Linked DNA regions of Homo sapiens: region 2 is linked to region 1. Evidence: fine-mapped expression QTL. Tissue or cell type: regulatory T cells. Region 1 holds a variant in brackets; the other region holds the start of a gene. All regions are shown on one strand. Distances are from middle to middle.

What was found. PIP is the estimated chance that this variant, and not a neighbour inherited with it, causes the effect.
Region 2: it holds the start of AGA-DT, and the variant in region 1 is fine-mapped to the expression of AGA-DT in regulatory T cells (Bossini-Castillo 2019, PIP 0.92).

Annotation. Positions count from the first base shown.
Region 1 is chr4:177,543,462-177,551,573 of GRCh38, forward strand. The region is part of intron 1 of AGA-DT (AGA divergent transcript); the gene reads left to right. Among named protein-coding and RNA genes, the nearest start is that of AGA-DT, 100 kb to the left of the region's middle. The variant G/GTGTGTGTA (reference allele first, on the strand shown) is at 3,828.
Region 2 is chr4:177,440,305-177,448,407 of GRCh38, forward strand. AGA-DT (AGA divergent transcript) reads left to right here and starts at 4,706. Exons shown (of 4, transcript NR_183779.1): 1 at 4,706-5,139. It overlaps AGA (aspartylglucosaminidase), which reads right to left and starts at 2,133. Exons shown (of 9, transcript NM_000027.4): 1 at 1,945-2,133; 2 at 1-122. The coding sequence starts at 2,071. RefSeq lists enhancers at 1,179-1,258, 2,085-2,628, 2,719-2,798.

The sequences.
Region 1 (8,112 bases):
TGGTGGCTCACACCTGTAATCCCAGCACTTTGGGAGGCCGAGGAGAGTGGCTCACCTAAGGTCAGGAGTTCGAGGCCAGCCTGACCAACATGGTGAAGCCCCGTCTCTACTAAAAATACAAAAATTAGCCAGTGTGGTGGCACATGCCTGTAATCCCAGCTACTCGGGAGGCTGAGGCAGGAGAATCGCTTGAAGCAGGAGGTGAAGGTTGCAGTGAGCTGAGATCTCACCACTGCACTCCAGCCTGGGCAACAGAGTGAGACTGTCAAAAAAAAAAAAAAGGTCCAGGTCATAGAGAAACAAATGTTTCTTAAGTGCCTACTTTATGTCAGTGGCTTTCCTGGATAAGTAAGATTGGATAAATAAGACATACAGTATTTATGTTTCAGAAAGAAATTAAAAAAGAAAAACAACCAAAACCCTGTATCCCAGATAACTAATTCAGGAATCATTGGTTGAGGAGACCTGATGGATCTTAGTTTAGCCTTTTAAATGTTAAAATGTTCAGCTTTTCTCACATGTGACATTTGCTGGTCTAGATAGCCTTAATTTTACAGCCGCCAAAATTTCTTTGGTATGGCAAATGCAGACAGAAGACTAATCTTGTGGGATTAAGTAGAGTTAAAAACTATTTACAAATAAATTTTAGAGTGTGAATAAATGGACAGACATTACTATGTGTCTCACATAGCAATGGCACATGCGCCCACAGTGCAGTAGTAGATTTCCCCTGGTACCCCGGCATCAGCACTAGTTTACTTTTAAGAGCAGGGCTGAGCTCTTTGGGAGCACATTACTACTTCTTAAGTGTTTTTTCTGCTATCTCAGGATATCCCGCATGATATTCTGACTACTTTAGAGGCCTGGGCAACTACGCTCCATTCATCATCAGTGTGAAAGAAATCTACACATTACATACGGTTAAGGATATTTCTTTGTTCCTTTTTGTGTTGCAATTTAAATCAGAGCCAATGTGGTGTATTTTAGCTGCGTTTTAGGTATGTAAAATTTTCAGTACTATGGTTGCTGCAAATGTAATTGTGGTTTTTGCCATTGCTTTTAGTGGCAAAAACCACAATTACTTTTGCACCAACCAAATACTAAAATAAACTTTTTTCATTATATAAATTTGATACCATGATATAGACTTAAGAAATCAAACCTTAAAAATATCTAGTTCAAATGGCATACTATTATAGTAAATGATGTAATAATTTTAAGCAATTAAACATTATCACTTAACCATATTCTCCTACATGATTGGCATTTTAATGCAAGTAGTGTCAGTTAAAGAGAAAAGTTCTTTTGATAAAAGCTCTATTGATATAATAACTAAAGTCAAAGTTAATTCTAAATAGTAAATAAATCGATCAATGCACATTTATTGGGGGTAATTCTGTGTTTTCTGCACAATTCCAGAGTTGCGGAAGATAACATAATTCCCTTTCGAAAGCAGAAAGAAAAATACAAGGGAATTTCTAATTAAATGATTGATTATATGGCATAAGTGTATTTGCTATAGAAGTTAAGAAGAGAGCTATGAAAGCGGGAATGAAAATTTGAACTAGCAAGGTTAGATCAGATTTAAATGACTGGAAGAAAGTAGGAAAGATATTTTTGGCAAACCTAAAAGCTGGGATTGAATGTGTGAGGCTCTGAGGTGAGGCCACTCTGTGAGTACAGCTGTCAGTGTATGTTGAAGTGAAGCAGGATAGGGGCTAATGTGGAGAATAGGGCTAAGTTATAAAGAGACCTGAAGGCCATGAAAACAAACAGAGGTAGGCTGGGCGTGGTGGCTCATGCCTGTAATCCCAGCACTTTGGGAGGCCGAGGCAGGCAGATCACCTGAGGTCAGGAGTTCAAGACCTGCCTGACCAACATGGTGAAACCCCATCTCTACTAAAAATACAAAAATTAGCTGGGCGTGGTGGCGGGCATCTGTAATCCCAGCTACTCAGGAGGCTGAGGCAGGAGAAACACTTGAACCTAGGAGGCGGAGGTTGCAGTGAGCTGACATCCTGCCATTGCATTCTAGCCTGGGTGACAGAGCGAGACTCTGTCTCAAAAAAAAAAAAAAAAGAAAACAAACAGAAGTAAGAACAGGTAGAGATGGGCAGGGAAACAAAACATTTCTTGGTTGTATTGTACAAATTATAATCGGTAACATTCATTATTAGCTTAATTATTAGCCGAATATTGTGCTAAGAATTTCACATAAATTACATAATCCTCATATCAACCTTGTAAGTTGGTATAATGATTGTTATTTTAAAGATGAGAAAACTGAGACACACAGAGAATAAGTCACTAGGCGATTATACACAGGTAGTATATGGAAGAATCAAGATTTAAAGTCAGGCAATTTAGCTTCCAAATTTCTATACTGAGATACTTTACCATCCAACATCGCGAGGAGGCTCTCGGCCTAAAAAGTTACACAACCCTATGAAAGAGGTATTATTATCCTAATTTTCGAGTTGATATACTGAGTGTCCACAAATTACTACTATGGCAGTTAAAATGGAAATTTCTACTTACCTGAAAGCACAATACAGCATTTACTCTGAGTTCAATTGCAATAAAAGGAAAATATTTAATCAATAATTTAATCAGTATATAGAGACAGCAATACTGTGTGCCAAACACCGTTGGTGGTACTAAAGATATAACTTGGGGACTTTGTAATTAACTAAATATTTTGTTATACTTATTTCTTCATTTATCTATATGCATTTTATATGCTCAGCTACTAATATTTTCTTTTTTTCATTATTTATTATACTTTAAGTTCTGGGATACATGTGCAGAATGTGCGGGTTTGTTACATAGGTATACATGTGCCGTGGTGGTTTGCTGCACCTATCAACCTGTCATCTAGGTTTTAAGCCTCGCATGCATTAGGTATTAGGTATTTGTCCTAATGCTATTCCTCCCCTAGCCCCCCACCCCCTGACAGGCCCCAGTGTGTGATGTTCCCCTCCCTGAGTCCATGTGTTCTCATTGTTCAACTCCTACTTATGATTGGGAACATGTGGTGTTTGGTTTTCTGTTCCTCTGTTAGTTTGCTGAGAATGATGGTTTCCAGCTTCATCCACGTCCCTCCAAAGGACATGAACTCATGCTTTTTTATGGCTGCATAGTATTCCATGGTGTATATGTGCCACATTTTCTTTATCCAGTCTATCATTGATGAGCATTTGGGTTGGTTCTATGTCTTTGCTATTGTGAATAGTGCTGCAATAAACATACATGTGCATGTGTCTTTATAGTAGAATGATTTATAATCCTTTGGGTATATACCCAGTAATGGGATTGCTGGATCAAATGGTATTTCTGGTTCTAGATCCTTGAGGAATTTTCTTCTGTCAACATTTACTTTGGTTTATTCTGAATTTCAGCCTAACCATTCCCTACCCTTATGCTTTGAAGACAAGACAGGAAACAGGTACCAACAAGCACAATACCAGTGATGAAAATCACAGTTGTAAGTTTCCTCTGGTGTGGAGCCACCTAGTGAAAGTAAAAGCAGATTGTTAAATATTTCAGAAGTTTGATGGCTGATTGTTATAGTTTATAGTTTATATGTTATAGTTTATAGATTGTTATATAGCTTGAAATTAGCCATCACAGGGTGCATCTACATCACAGAAATTGGCAAACATTACTGACAGTATGATTGATATATATATATATATATATGCTATTAAATGTGTATATATGTAAAATGTGATATATATGCTATTAAATTTGTATATATATGCTATTAAATGTGTATATTATATATGTGTGTGTATATATGTGCTATTAAATGTGTATATTATATATGT[G/GTGTGTGTA]TGTGTGTGTGTGTGTGTGTGTGTGTGTGTGTGTGTATCTGTTCTATTTTCAGTGGCTCGCTGCACAGAACTGCCAGGGAAGAAGACTTTTTATTTGGGTGAAGTCAACCAGAGGGATGAGAGCCAAACCTCAAATCCATCTCTCCAAATTGATTAAAATTGGTGTGTTGACATAGTGGGGGGGAAATATAACTACATGTGGGAAACAGGAATTAGAGGAATTAGGGAAGGGTGAGGAAGCAATCACGATTGATGGGGGCTCTGGCTTCTCCTTGTCTGGGTGCCAGGATCTGGTGAGTCCCTTGCCTGAGGTTTGGTTTCCTGAGGAAGGAACCCAGAGGAGACAAATGTTAAGTTTCAAGTTTCAAGATCAGGAGGATCAATCTCTATGTTTATTGAAAAAACCCCATAAATATCAGTTCTATGGGAAAATTGGGCCAGTTTTATATAAATATGTGTAATATGTGTACGTATAATTTTGAAGTGCTTTAGTAACATAGTTGCTTTGTTCATTTATTGATTCCATAAATACTGAATATGTATACATATTGTAAATATGTCATCTGTATACACACAGGGGCACACACACATATAGGTTTTCATCCATTGTTCCTGGCTCATAACTCCCGTAGCCTTTGTAACAGTTTTTATAATGCTGTGGCTCTTTAGGTCTCAAAAAACAGAAACTCTCTCTCTGACCTTCTCCTATTCTCCTGTCAGCAGCCCGAGACAGGACTCTAATCTTCTTTCACCATTCTGATTGTGGGTTATAAGATCCTCATTTCAGAAGGGGTCCTGGCCCTTAGCCTGGAAAAAGGAATACAGCACAGAGAAGCCAAAAAGAATCTGGACAAGCCTTGCTGGGTTTCTGTTCAGCCTATTAGTGTTAGAGAATACCCTTTTTGTCCAATCATACTTCTCCCTGGTGGTCAATTCTGTCTATGCAGTGAAGTCTCCATTAAAGGCCCAAGAGGACAGGGTGCAAGAGAACTTCTGGATAGCTGAATATGTGGAAGCTGAGAGGAAGGTGAACAAGAATTCATCTATGTGCTGGGAAGTGGTGCACCCCAACTCCAAAGGGACAGAAGCTCCTGTGCTTGAGACCCTTCCAGACCTTGCCTTGTGTATCTCTTCATCTGGCGGTTTATGTGTATCCTCTAAAATATCCTTTGGCATAAACTGCTAAACATCATAAATGTTTTCTTGAGTTCTATGAGCCGCTCTAGAAAATTAATTGAACCCAAAGAGGGGGCTCTGAGAGTCCCAATTTGAAGCCAGTGCATTAGAAATTCTAGAGGCTGGGGTATGCTGATGGGAAGGAGGGGGTGGTTTTGTGTGACTGAGCCCCCAACTTGTGGGATCTGAGGCTGTCTCCAGATAGTGGCTGAATTGAATTGAATTGGAGGGCACCCAGCTGGTGTCTGCTGCAGAGCTGATTGCTTGCTTAGTGTGTGGGGAGAAACCCCACACATTTGGTCACAGAAGTCTTCTGTGTTGCTTGTGGTGATAGAACAGAGGAAAAACAGTTTGAGTTTTTCCACTATCACAAGTACAAATGAGGGCTTTTTTTTTTTTTTCAGTCTAGCTGCCAGTACACCACTGCCCTCCTCCTTTGTGAGATCTTTGTAGGTTCTATTCTCATTCTTTCAGATGCCTGGTATATTTGTAATTTGCATCCTGTTATTTGTATCTTTTTTTCCTATCAAAGAGAGCTCACAAGAATGGAGAAGGGGAAGGGAATTAATATTTCCTAAGCATCTGCTGTATATCAATTACTGTGCTTAACTGTACATATTATTTGATATTCATGATAACTCAGTGAGTTAATTATTACTCCCATTTTCAGGCTAGAAAACTGTGACTTAGAAAGGTTAAGTTACATTTCTGTGGTCAAACATATAAGAACTGAAGTTGAGGGCGGGCACAGTGGCTCACACCTGTAATCCCAGCACTTTGAGAGGCCGAGGTGGGCAGATCAGGAGGTCAGCAGACCAAGACCATCCTGGCCAACATGGTGAAATCCCATCTCTATTAAAAATACAAAATTTAGCTGGGTAGGGTGGCACGTGCCTGTAATCCCAGCTACTCGGGAGGTGCCACTGCACTCCAGCCTGGGCAACAGAGCGAGAGTCCTTCTCAAAATAAAAAAAAGAACTGAAGTTGAATTTCTTATATGTGACTTCAAAGTCCACAGTCTTTCCAGCTGGTGAATGTGTCAGTAATTTAGGCTTCTGGGTTTGTTTAGAGTGGCTAATTTTGAAATGCTTTAGTAACTGTTTTACATAGTTGCTTTGTTCATTTATTGATTACATAAGTACTCAAGAGATATGGCCGGGTGCGGTGGCTCATGCCTATAATCCCAGCACTTTGGGAGGCCAAGGCAGGCTGATTATGAGGTCAGGAGATTGAGACCATCCTGGCTAACATGGTGAAACCCCGTCGCTACTAAAAATACAAAAAAAATAGCCGGGCATGGTGGCGGGCACCTGTAGTCCCAGCTACTCGAGAGGCTGAGTCAGGAGAATGGCGTGAACCCGGGAGGCAGAGCTTGCAGTGAGCCGAGATCGCGCCACTGCACTCCAGCCTGGGCGACAGAGCAAGACTCCGTCTCAAAAAAATAAATAAATGAAAAAAAAGAAATAACTGGGTCCCCATCTGACAATGAGAAGCACATTTAATGCCTTAAGGTAGGAATGAAAGAGGCAGACACCTGAACAGAGAGAGCGGGTGTGTGGAAGGCATTGTTTCCTAATCACAAGCATTTGAAAAAGGCTTTTTGGGGAAGCAAATATAGGCCTCTTGACGTCCAAGAAATCCTACTGCATTCCTATTCCAGTTAAGGCTGAGCCTGGAAACAATGTTTAGTACCTGTTCTCTTAAAGACCTTTCATACCACTTCAGCTGTAAGTTAATAATGGAGTCTTTGTATAATAAAAGAGTAAAAATAGACTTGTTTTTCTATTACATTTTGTTTTTGGTTAGGGAGGAAAAAAACGTGAAGCTGTATCAAGGTTGTATTTGTCCTAATAAATTTTGCTTTAGATTCATTGACGTTCAAAGGCACAAGTCTCCTAAATCTCAGCTCTGCTATTTGTTACCTACTTATTACATTGCACCTGTTGATAACTAGCTCAGCTTTTTGGCCCCACTTTTCTCATCTATAGTTTCACTACTGTATGAATACTCACCTTACAAGGCTGTCTGGCTATAGATAATGTACATAGTCTCTCCAATCTACTTTTGTACCCAACTTCTATCACTTTCCTGTGGAATCCTTAATGTTAGTAAAACTTTTCTCCTCACTACGCTTTGATCAGTCCTTTGGGATTAACTTTCCTGAAATGCCTCCTTTTCTCTTTGTCCCTTCAGTCTCCAACCCGAAGGCCCAAGTCAAGTTTAGTACCCTCCCAAATCCTTCCCAGTCCATGATATCTGCTTTAGATCTCTTCTATTCTCTTCTGAGTTTAGACTTGGTCTTCCTTTCCTTTACCTATTTGTAATTATAAACCATCATTAGCATCTCTTGTAGCATTGCTTTGTGCGGTTACACATATCTTTCCCTTTTCTTTCCAACAAGATTTTAATTACCTAGAGGTTGGGGTTGTTATGTTTCTTCACATTTCTCATAGAGTGCAACACACCTGAACAGTCTCAAACAGCAGCAACATTAATATGTACTAACATTCATAATCCTTCCATGAGCATTGCATACAGAACTGTGCACAGGGTGAATGTTTAATAAGTATTGCAGTAATTACTTATTACTTCTGTGTTAATTGTAGTATGTTCCGAGGATCCAACCTCTGCAGCACTTTTGCTCAGTTTCTTGACCTGCATAAATTCCCAAGAAAATTAACAAAAAGTTTGTTATGGTCTGAACTATGTCCTTCCCAAGTTGATAGGTTGAAATCCTAACCCCCAGTATCTCAGAATGTGACTGTATTTTGAGATAGGGTATTTGAGGAGGTAATAAAGGTTAAGTGAAGTCATTAGTGTGGGACTGGTGTCCTTATAAGAAGAGGAGGTTAGAAGACAGGCACATACAGAGAAAGGACCATATAAAGATACAGGGAAAAGACACCTATGTACAAGCCAAGGAGGGAGGCCATAGAAACCAACCCTACAGGCTGGGCGCGGTGGCTCACGCCTGTAATCCCAGCACTTTGGGAGGCCGAGGCGGGCGGATCACAAGGTCAGGAGATCGAGACCATCTTGGCTAACACGGTGAAACCCCGTCTCTACTAAAAATACAAAAAATTAGCCGGGCGTGGTGGCGGGCGCCTGT
Region 2 (8,103 bases), 100 kb before region 1:
TCCAAGTTCATCAGGACTTCCTCCAAAGCCTACAGAGCCGTCACACTGCTCTCTCTCACACATGGCACAGCCGCTCTCCACTGCATCCAGGGCAGAGCCTCCAGATGCTAATGCCCTCCACGCTGTTAATCAAATCCCAATAATGCTTGTTTATATATATATTTTTTTTTCAATGCCAAATGCAACAAACCAACTCCAATTTAACAACTTTTTCACATTTACTGAGTTAAGCTGATTTTTTAACACATTAGTTTATCAAGTGTTACAAAGGAGTCAGTGAAGAGTCAAAATTATTTAACTAGTTATCAGAAGAACTCAAAAAACTGGCTATTGGTGCAAGCTGAAGGTTTTTTTTTTTTTCACTTACTAATATCTATCTCTTCTGTGTGCGAGAAACGAAATCAGTATCCCCTCCTTTATTTTAAAAGGTACAATCGAAACCACTAAAAGGCAGTTAAATAAAAAATCCACTAAACCGCAGCCTTCTTCACACATTTCTTCTGCATCATTAGATTAAAATATGCATAATTGATATGTGTATTGAGGTAACACCTATCCCAGGAAGTCTTAATAATACTGAACAGCAAACAATTACAACGTGGACTTCATATGGATTAGTTCATTGAGTCTTCATAACAGCTTCTGTGGTAGGTACTGTACAATCACGACCCTCATTTTAAAGAAAAGTAAACAGAGCCACAGGTCAGGCAGTTAGTTTAAGGTCACACAGCTGGTAAGTAGCAGAGCCAGGATCCCATACATTTGGGGGTGTGGGGGGAAGGGTCTTTGATGGACAATTTCTTTTCTGGTAACAACAGAATTCCTTGAAGAGTGGGTGCTCTGGTTGGTAAACACTACAGCACCTACAGGCTTGAAAGTGTATTTACGCAAGTTCCCTCTTTCAATACAGGCAACTTAAACACAGAACTGTCCCCCGCCCAGGCTGATGCAATTTCTTTTCGTCTCATTATGGCTGGGAATATCTTTCTCACAGCCTGCTTCTTCATTTTCTCTGAATCGTATGCACTGCCACCAAATTCTGGAGCCAATTCTGCCCTAGAAAGTTAATACGTTAGCAACCTCAGATGGAGGAGGAGGGGTCTGAAAATGACTCTTCTGGTCATTAAGCAAATGAAAGAAACAAGCATAGTACAATGCGAAAATGCCAAGATAATGGTACGTAAAGGCTATTAACAAGGTGTAGAAGGCAGGAACCTAACTCATTCTGGACACGAGGGCAGTTAAGTCAGGGAACGCTTCCTGGAAGAGGTGATACCTTAGCTTAGTGGTTCTCAACCCTGTCTGCAAATCGAAATCACCTAGGGAGCTTTTTAAAGAAAAACAGTGGCCCTGATTCCAGCAGTTAGATCACAGTCACAGGAGGTGGGCCCCGGCAGGATGATTTTTGAGAAGCTCCCCAGATAGTGTGAATGTACAGCAAAGGTTGGAACCTTGAATTCTAAGTGGCAGGTAAAGTATGACAACACGTGGCAAAAAAAGTAAATGGGAAAAGAGTAGGCTATGGCTGGGACACTATTAGTCGTCTACAAAATTGCAAAGAAGTGAAGGATTAGAAACGAGAGGTGGAGACGTACACAGCCCGTGAAAAGACTGTCAGGCAGAAAAGCGTAGCTGCTACTTGATTAAAGCACAAAGGCCATAACTATGGTCAGCAGCAGGGTGGAAAATACATTGCGCTGGGGGCTGCATGAAGGGAGGACCTAAAATGCAACAGCGGTAGGTGGGGAGGATGCAGTAAAGGCCACTTGCAAGAGACTGAGCGGCGCTGGAGACTCGGGAAGACCTAGAGGGCGGGACCGCGAGGCCCGGCCCAGCCCGGCGCTCTTCCGTCCGCCCTGCCGGGTGACTGCAGCGGGGCGGGCTAGTCATCCCCACCCGCAAGCTCTCGCGGCGCAGCCGCCCGCCCAGGCCGCCAACCCGCACCTGCTTCGGTTGCATTCTTAAAGGGCCAAGTGTTGACGACCAGGGGCAGAGGGCTGGAGCAGCGCACTAGGGCCTGGCAGAGCAGAAACGGCACGAGAAGCACAGGCAAGTTCGACTTCCGCGCCATCCCTGACCACCGAAGAGACCAGCGCGAGAAAAGTCCCGGCAGCCAGCGATCGCCGAACAATTAATCCCCAGTGCCCCGCCCGCCTGGCGCCCACGCCCGCTCTCTCGGGGGTTCGCTCAGGCGTCCCTCAACTCTCGCGAGACGAGGCGTCCCTGGGCCCGCGGGAGAGTTGTGTCACGGGGCACTGAGCTGTTCCCTGCGCTAAGGTGCTTCTTCCTAAGTGCTGTTCAGATTTTTAAAATAGCCAGACAAGTTGCTGCTTTTCCTGTGGTTAAAATAGATTTAGCTTGATATTGGGAATTTAATACAAAATTATTCAACTCTGGGTTGCAGGGCCCCAGGAACTTTAGCCGATTGCTGTGTACTATGGATTTGGTTCTTTTACTGTCTTTTTAATTTAAAGTTGAAGTTGAAAAGTTTGTCAAACTCAGTATATTCTTGGGGATCCCAGGCCTCGGAGGTCTGCAATAGTTATGAGTGTAGGTGAAGCGTGTTTGCTTAGGACCGGATTGATTTTAGATTTTTTTTCCATTCATAGCGTCCGTCATTTTCGCACCACAGCTTTTTGTAGCACTTCCTCTCATTATAAATCCCTGAGCTGGAAGAAAAACAGAAACGGCCTATGTACCCTCTACCTAGCACACTGAAGTGCAGCTTCCTGCACCTCCAGGGCAAGACGGCTACCTCCATTCCTTTTTAAATGTATTTTTACCTTCCTGCCTGGCACTATTAAGTGCTAAATAAATGAATAAGAGGAGGAATGGGGATTTTACGTGCTTGGTGGAGGCTGCTCAGTTTTGTTGCTGGGCAGACGTGCGAACATGAACTAATAATCCCTTTGGGTGTCTGGAATGCCTGCCCAGGTTGCCAAGGCAAGACACATAATCACATAATTTTTAAAAGCATCTATAAATCTATACAAACTTTAAAAATATGAACTAGGCTGGGCACGATGGCTCACGCCTGTAATCCCAACACTTTGGGATGCTGAGGTGGGTGGATCACGAGGTCAGGAGTTCGAGACCAGCCTGGCCAACATAGTGAAACCCGTCTCTACTAAAAATACAAAAATTAGCCGGGCGTGGTGGTGCATGCCTGTAGTCCCAACTACTTGGGAGGCTGAGGCAGAATTGCTTGAAGCCGGGAGGTGGAGATTGTGGTGAGCCGAGATCGCACCACTTCACTCCAGCCTGGACAACAGAGTGAGATTCTGTCTCAAAAATAAATAAATAAATAAATGTAAAAATATAAACTAGGTAGGAGTTGTGAGACTTACAAAACCTTCAAGGCTCTTATTGATTGCTAGGAAATTAAATACATAATTTAAAGAACATAAGATAGCCCAGAAGTATCATTATCCCGTTGGGGAAGTGTTAATTAAAAGATATAATAAAGACAAATTTTCTAAGTTCCTTTCATGGGGTTTGGAAGAGGAACAAGTCATCTGTGCTGGAGTAATCATAACCCAATGGCAGGTGAAACTGGAAACTTGGGTGAAACAGGGTAAGAAAGCCAGAAAAACATACATTGTCCTCTGAGTAAATTTTCCTTAGCTCCTGGGCTGAGTATTTTTATGCAGCCTTAAGGAATTAGGACATGCCTTTAGCAAAAATTGTAAAATACAATACATGGAAAATTGGTCTTAGTACCCCACTGATCTCTCTAGCCTCTTCCTGTTTTTTAAGGTATTTGTGTTTCTTCTGGTGGAAAGAGCCTGATCTGTTACCTCCTACTATGTCTATTTCTCCAAATTCTTTCTTCTTAAATAAAAATTCCTGTCAGAGAAACAGCTAAATTACACTATAGTGGGAATGGCTGATAGAAGGTCTCAATATATCAACTTTTCCATGGATATTTGTATGTATGTATGTATGTATGTATTTATTTTTTGAGATGGAGTCTTGCTCTATCGCCCAGGCTGGAGTTCACTGGTGTAATCTCAGCTCACTGCAACCTCCACCTCCTGCATTCAAGCGATTCTCTTGCCCCAGCCTCCTGAGTAGCTGGGATTGCTACTGCCTACTACCATGCCCGGCTAATTTTTGTATTTTAAGTAGAGACAGGTTTTGCCATTTTGGCCAGGTTGGTCTTGAACTCCTGACACAGGTGATCCACCCACCGCCCCCACCCCCCCGACCTCCCAAAATGCTGGGATTACAGGTGTGAGCCACCGTGCCCAGCCGGATATTTGTATTTAAATAACTAATATGCAATCCCTATAGAATCTACCCGATTCAGTGTCTTCTTAGTGGCTACTAAAATACCTACTGGATCCACTGTCCAGTTTGCCTAAATTGTAGCTGTTTCTTAAGTTAAATTCGTCTGGATATTTGGTTCCTTCTGGAGTAGTTTTCCTTTGACTAACACTTGAAGAATAATTTTCATTTTAGTTCTAGAAGTAACCTTCTGTTACTCTCACTTAGGTGCTCTTTTGGGCCTAAATATAATTAGATCCTTCGCCGTTGTTTTGAGGTAAATCTAAACGAAAAGGAACACCTGTTAACAGGTAGTGATGCCGCAGGAAAGTGCTGGGAAGGGAATGCTGGGAAGGGAAGGGCGTGGTCCCTTTAAATGATAAGGAAGGGGGGCGGGAAGTGCTGGGTAGAGGAGGGCGTGGTCCCCAGCTAGGGCTTCATCCCTGGGCCTGGGCCTACCTAGGTGAAGACAGGCATTTTTGTTTTCCTGCCCGGATGTTGCATTTCCCAAGACCACCCTGGCCTGCCATGCCCTCATCCTGTGCCTTTAAAAACCCCCGAGACCCTGGCAGGCAGACGCACAAGCAGCTGGACATTGAGAGGAGCATATAGGCAGAGAATACAGGGGCTGCTGGATGTCGAAAGGAACGCACCAGCATAGGAGCACACCGGCATGCTGGCAGGCCATTGACCAGCGGAAGAATGCAGAGTTTGTCGCGGGAGGTCAGAGAAGAGTCAGGCCGCCATACCTGACTCCAGGAGAAAACCGTCTCCCTTCTGGTTCCCCCGTCTGCCGAGAGCTACTTCCACTCAATAAAACTTTCCACTCATTCTTCAAGCCCACGTGTGATCCAATTCTTCCCGTACACCAAGGTAAGAACCCGGGATACAGAAAGCCCTCTGTCTTTGCGATAAGGCAGGGGTCTAATTGAGCTAACACAAGCCGCCTACAGACGGTTAAACTAAAAGAGCACCCTGTAACACATGCCCACTGGGGCTTCAGCTGTAAACATTCACACCTAGACACTGCTGTGGGGTCAGAGCCTCACAATCTGCCCGTCTGTATGCCCCTATAGAGGTTTGAGCAGCAGGACACTGAAGAAGCGAGCCACACCCCCATCACACGCCCTGCAAGGGCGACAAGGGAACTTTTCCTGTTTCAGTAGTAGACCGTAAAATAAATGATCCTCAGTTTTTCCAGCATCCTCTCCAATTTTTCATTCTTTTAAATCATTATACACAGGGCAGAGATATTTAGTGTTACTGATAAATCAAAGGAACTATTTGTAAAAGTATTTTTATTTAAATTTAGAATGCATTACACAATTTTGTTTGGCAAAATGTTTCTGTTCCTAAGTAGAGCTTACTTATAACTAGCAATACTTCAGGAGGATTTTCCAGACTTAGATTTTAAAACTTAGGGTGTGGCCAGGCCTAGTGGCTCATGTCCATAATCCTGGCACTTTGGGAGGCTGAGGTGGGTGGATGGCTTGAGCCCAAGAGTTTGAGACCAGCCTGGGCAACATAGCGAGATTCCTGTCTCTATTAAAAAAAAAATTAAAAAAAGGTGACTGTGTATCAGCTGTGGTTAACTCATGTAAGCTTCCTAAGCCATGCTTTTCTCATCTATAAAATGGAGATAATAATAGTATTCTTTCTTATTTTACAAAGCTTTGTGAATGAGGTAGGAGATGTGGGAGAATGGTGTAATACCAGGCAAATTAAATAAAATTCTCTTATTCTAATTTGCCATTCCCAAGTACCTATAATTGATGTCAAGGAGGCAGTCCAGAAACATACAAGGCAGTAAAAAGAAATCAATTTGATCAATTTGAGACACAGAAATTTCCACAGGAAGAATAAAGAGTTGGCCCAATACCTATAATGCATTTGAAAGTAATCACTTAGAATTTCCTTGAATATATTAAATGAGAATTAAAAATAATGTTTTTAGTTTACTTGGAGCTGCCTGAAATTTGGTTTGAATGCTTATAAAGATGGTGCATGGCAGGACTGTGAGATTTCTGGATGTCTTAAAAACAACACCCTTAAGTCTTAACAAGGGGAAAGCCTCAAATGGAATCTTAAGTGATGTTGCAAATAGAGCCTTTGTGTGTTTGTGTTTGTGTATGTGTGTGTGTTGGAGGTGGGTGGAGGAGTTTCAGACCGCTGCAGGCTCTCTTATTTCCTCTAAACTTCATGGCTTTCAATTTATCAGTCTCAGAAGGATGAAGAGTTGAGTCCCTCCTGATAGCATTTGAAGCTGTGGTTCCACAGAGGATTTAATGCTGTAGTTGCAGGGAGTCTAGGTATTTCAATTCTGAGGCTTAAAAAACTAAGCCATCCCCTCCGGCTTTTGCACTGATGCTGTGAAATCCATTTGAGAAACATGTCCATGTTTTGCTACTTGTTCAAAGCTGTAAGCCTGACTTGGCATTGAAATGATAATTTCTTTTTCAAAACTCCCCACTGAACTATTACCTAGGTTATCTAAATATAGGCTATTTACTTGATTGGCATTTGCTCCTGTCAGTTTCATAAACTGTAAGTAATGATTTTTGCTGATGTTAGAGCATTGTGGTACTGTGTTTCTAATTTAAATCAATGTCTACATTAATCTGGGAACATTTGATGTTACTACCTGATTGTACATTCTGGATGTAATTAGAGTCATTATACAGAAATAAGTGTCATCCTCTTATTCTCTAAATGAGAAAAGAGAGCATTCTTCTCTTCTGAAATAATTTTTCTGGGTCATGCCCCCAAAACCATTTGTCAAATCAATAGCAGATTCTAATCACAAACTTTTTTGACTTTTTAACCTTTAAAAGTCATCTTAGTGACTTATAAAGACCAAGATTGTGCAGTAGAATGTGGGCCTATTAAGTTATTTCTTATCAAAATAAATTATGTACAACATATTTTCAATGTGTAATTGTAATACTGGGCCACTGCTGTGATATAGTTTTCATAACAAGGACATAGTAGACTATTAAACATGGTGGATCTTGCTTTTTGTGACAGTTGTTTATAACATTATGATGTCATCATAAATGTGATCCATTACAATAGTAAAGCCTTAGGGCAACAGAGTAGATGTCAGGATGTCTTCCTACCACTTAAAAAATGACTTTGACATTGTTAAGGTAGTGTGACAGATGATTTCAATAAAGAAATTCAACAATAAAAGCAAACTTCTAAACTAACAGTGACTTACAGGAAGTACATTATGCATTTAAAATGATATCTACTTGTCGATCATGACAATGAGTATTAGAAAACTATCCAAATAATGAACACATGTATCCTGTGTGTAGCTACACAAATAGTCTGTTAATTCTCAATCATTCATATAAAAATATGAAAGGAAAGATTTTCACATAACATAGCTTATTTTTTTCATTTTTTAGAAACACTTTTGTGTCCTTCAAATATCTCTGAAATACTCTAGCTCTTGTTGAAAATCACCAGCCTCTTAACATTTTGATATGTATCTGTTTGGTGAAAAATCTTGGTATTATACACACTGTTGTAGAACCTGCTTTTTTATTTAATATCTCTTTGACCTCTGCATATCATTAAAATTTATGCTTTTTAAAAACCTTCATTGTGCAATGTAAATACAGTAAAGGACATAAAATGTAAATAAATAGATTAAATAATTTTGTAGAAAATGAACAGCTATGTAATCACCACTTATATAAACAAACAGAATATTGTCAGTACCCCAGAAAACCGCTAAGGACCTCTATAACATGTTCTCTGAAGATTTAAAAAAATTTTATTTAATTTTTTATTTTTATAGATACGGGGTATAAGTGTAGTTGTGTTATATGT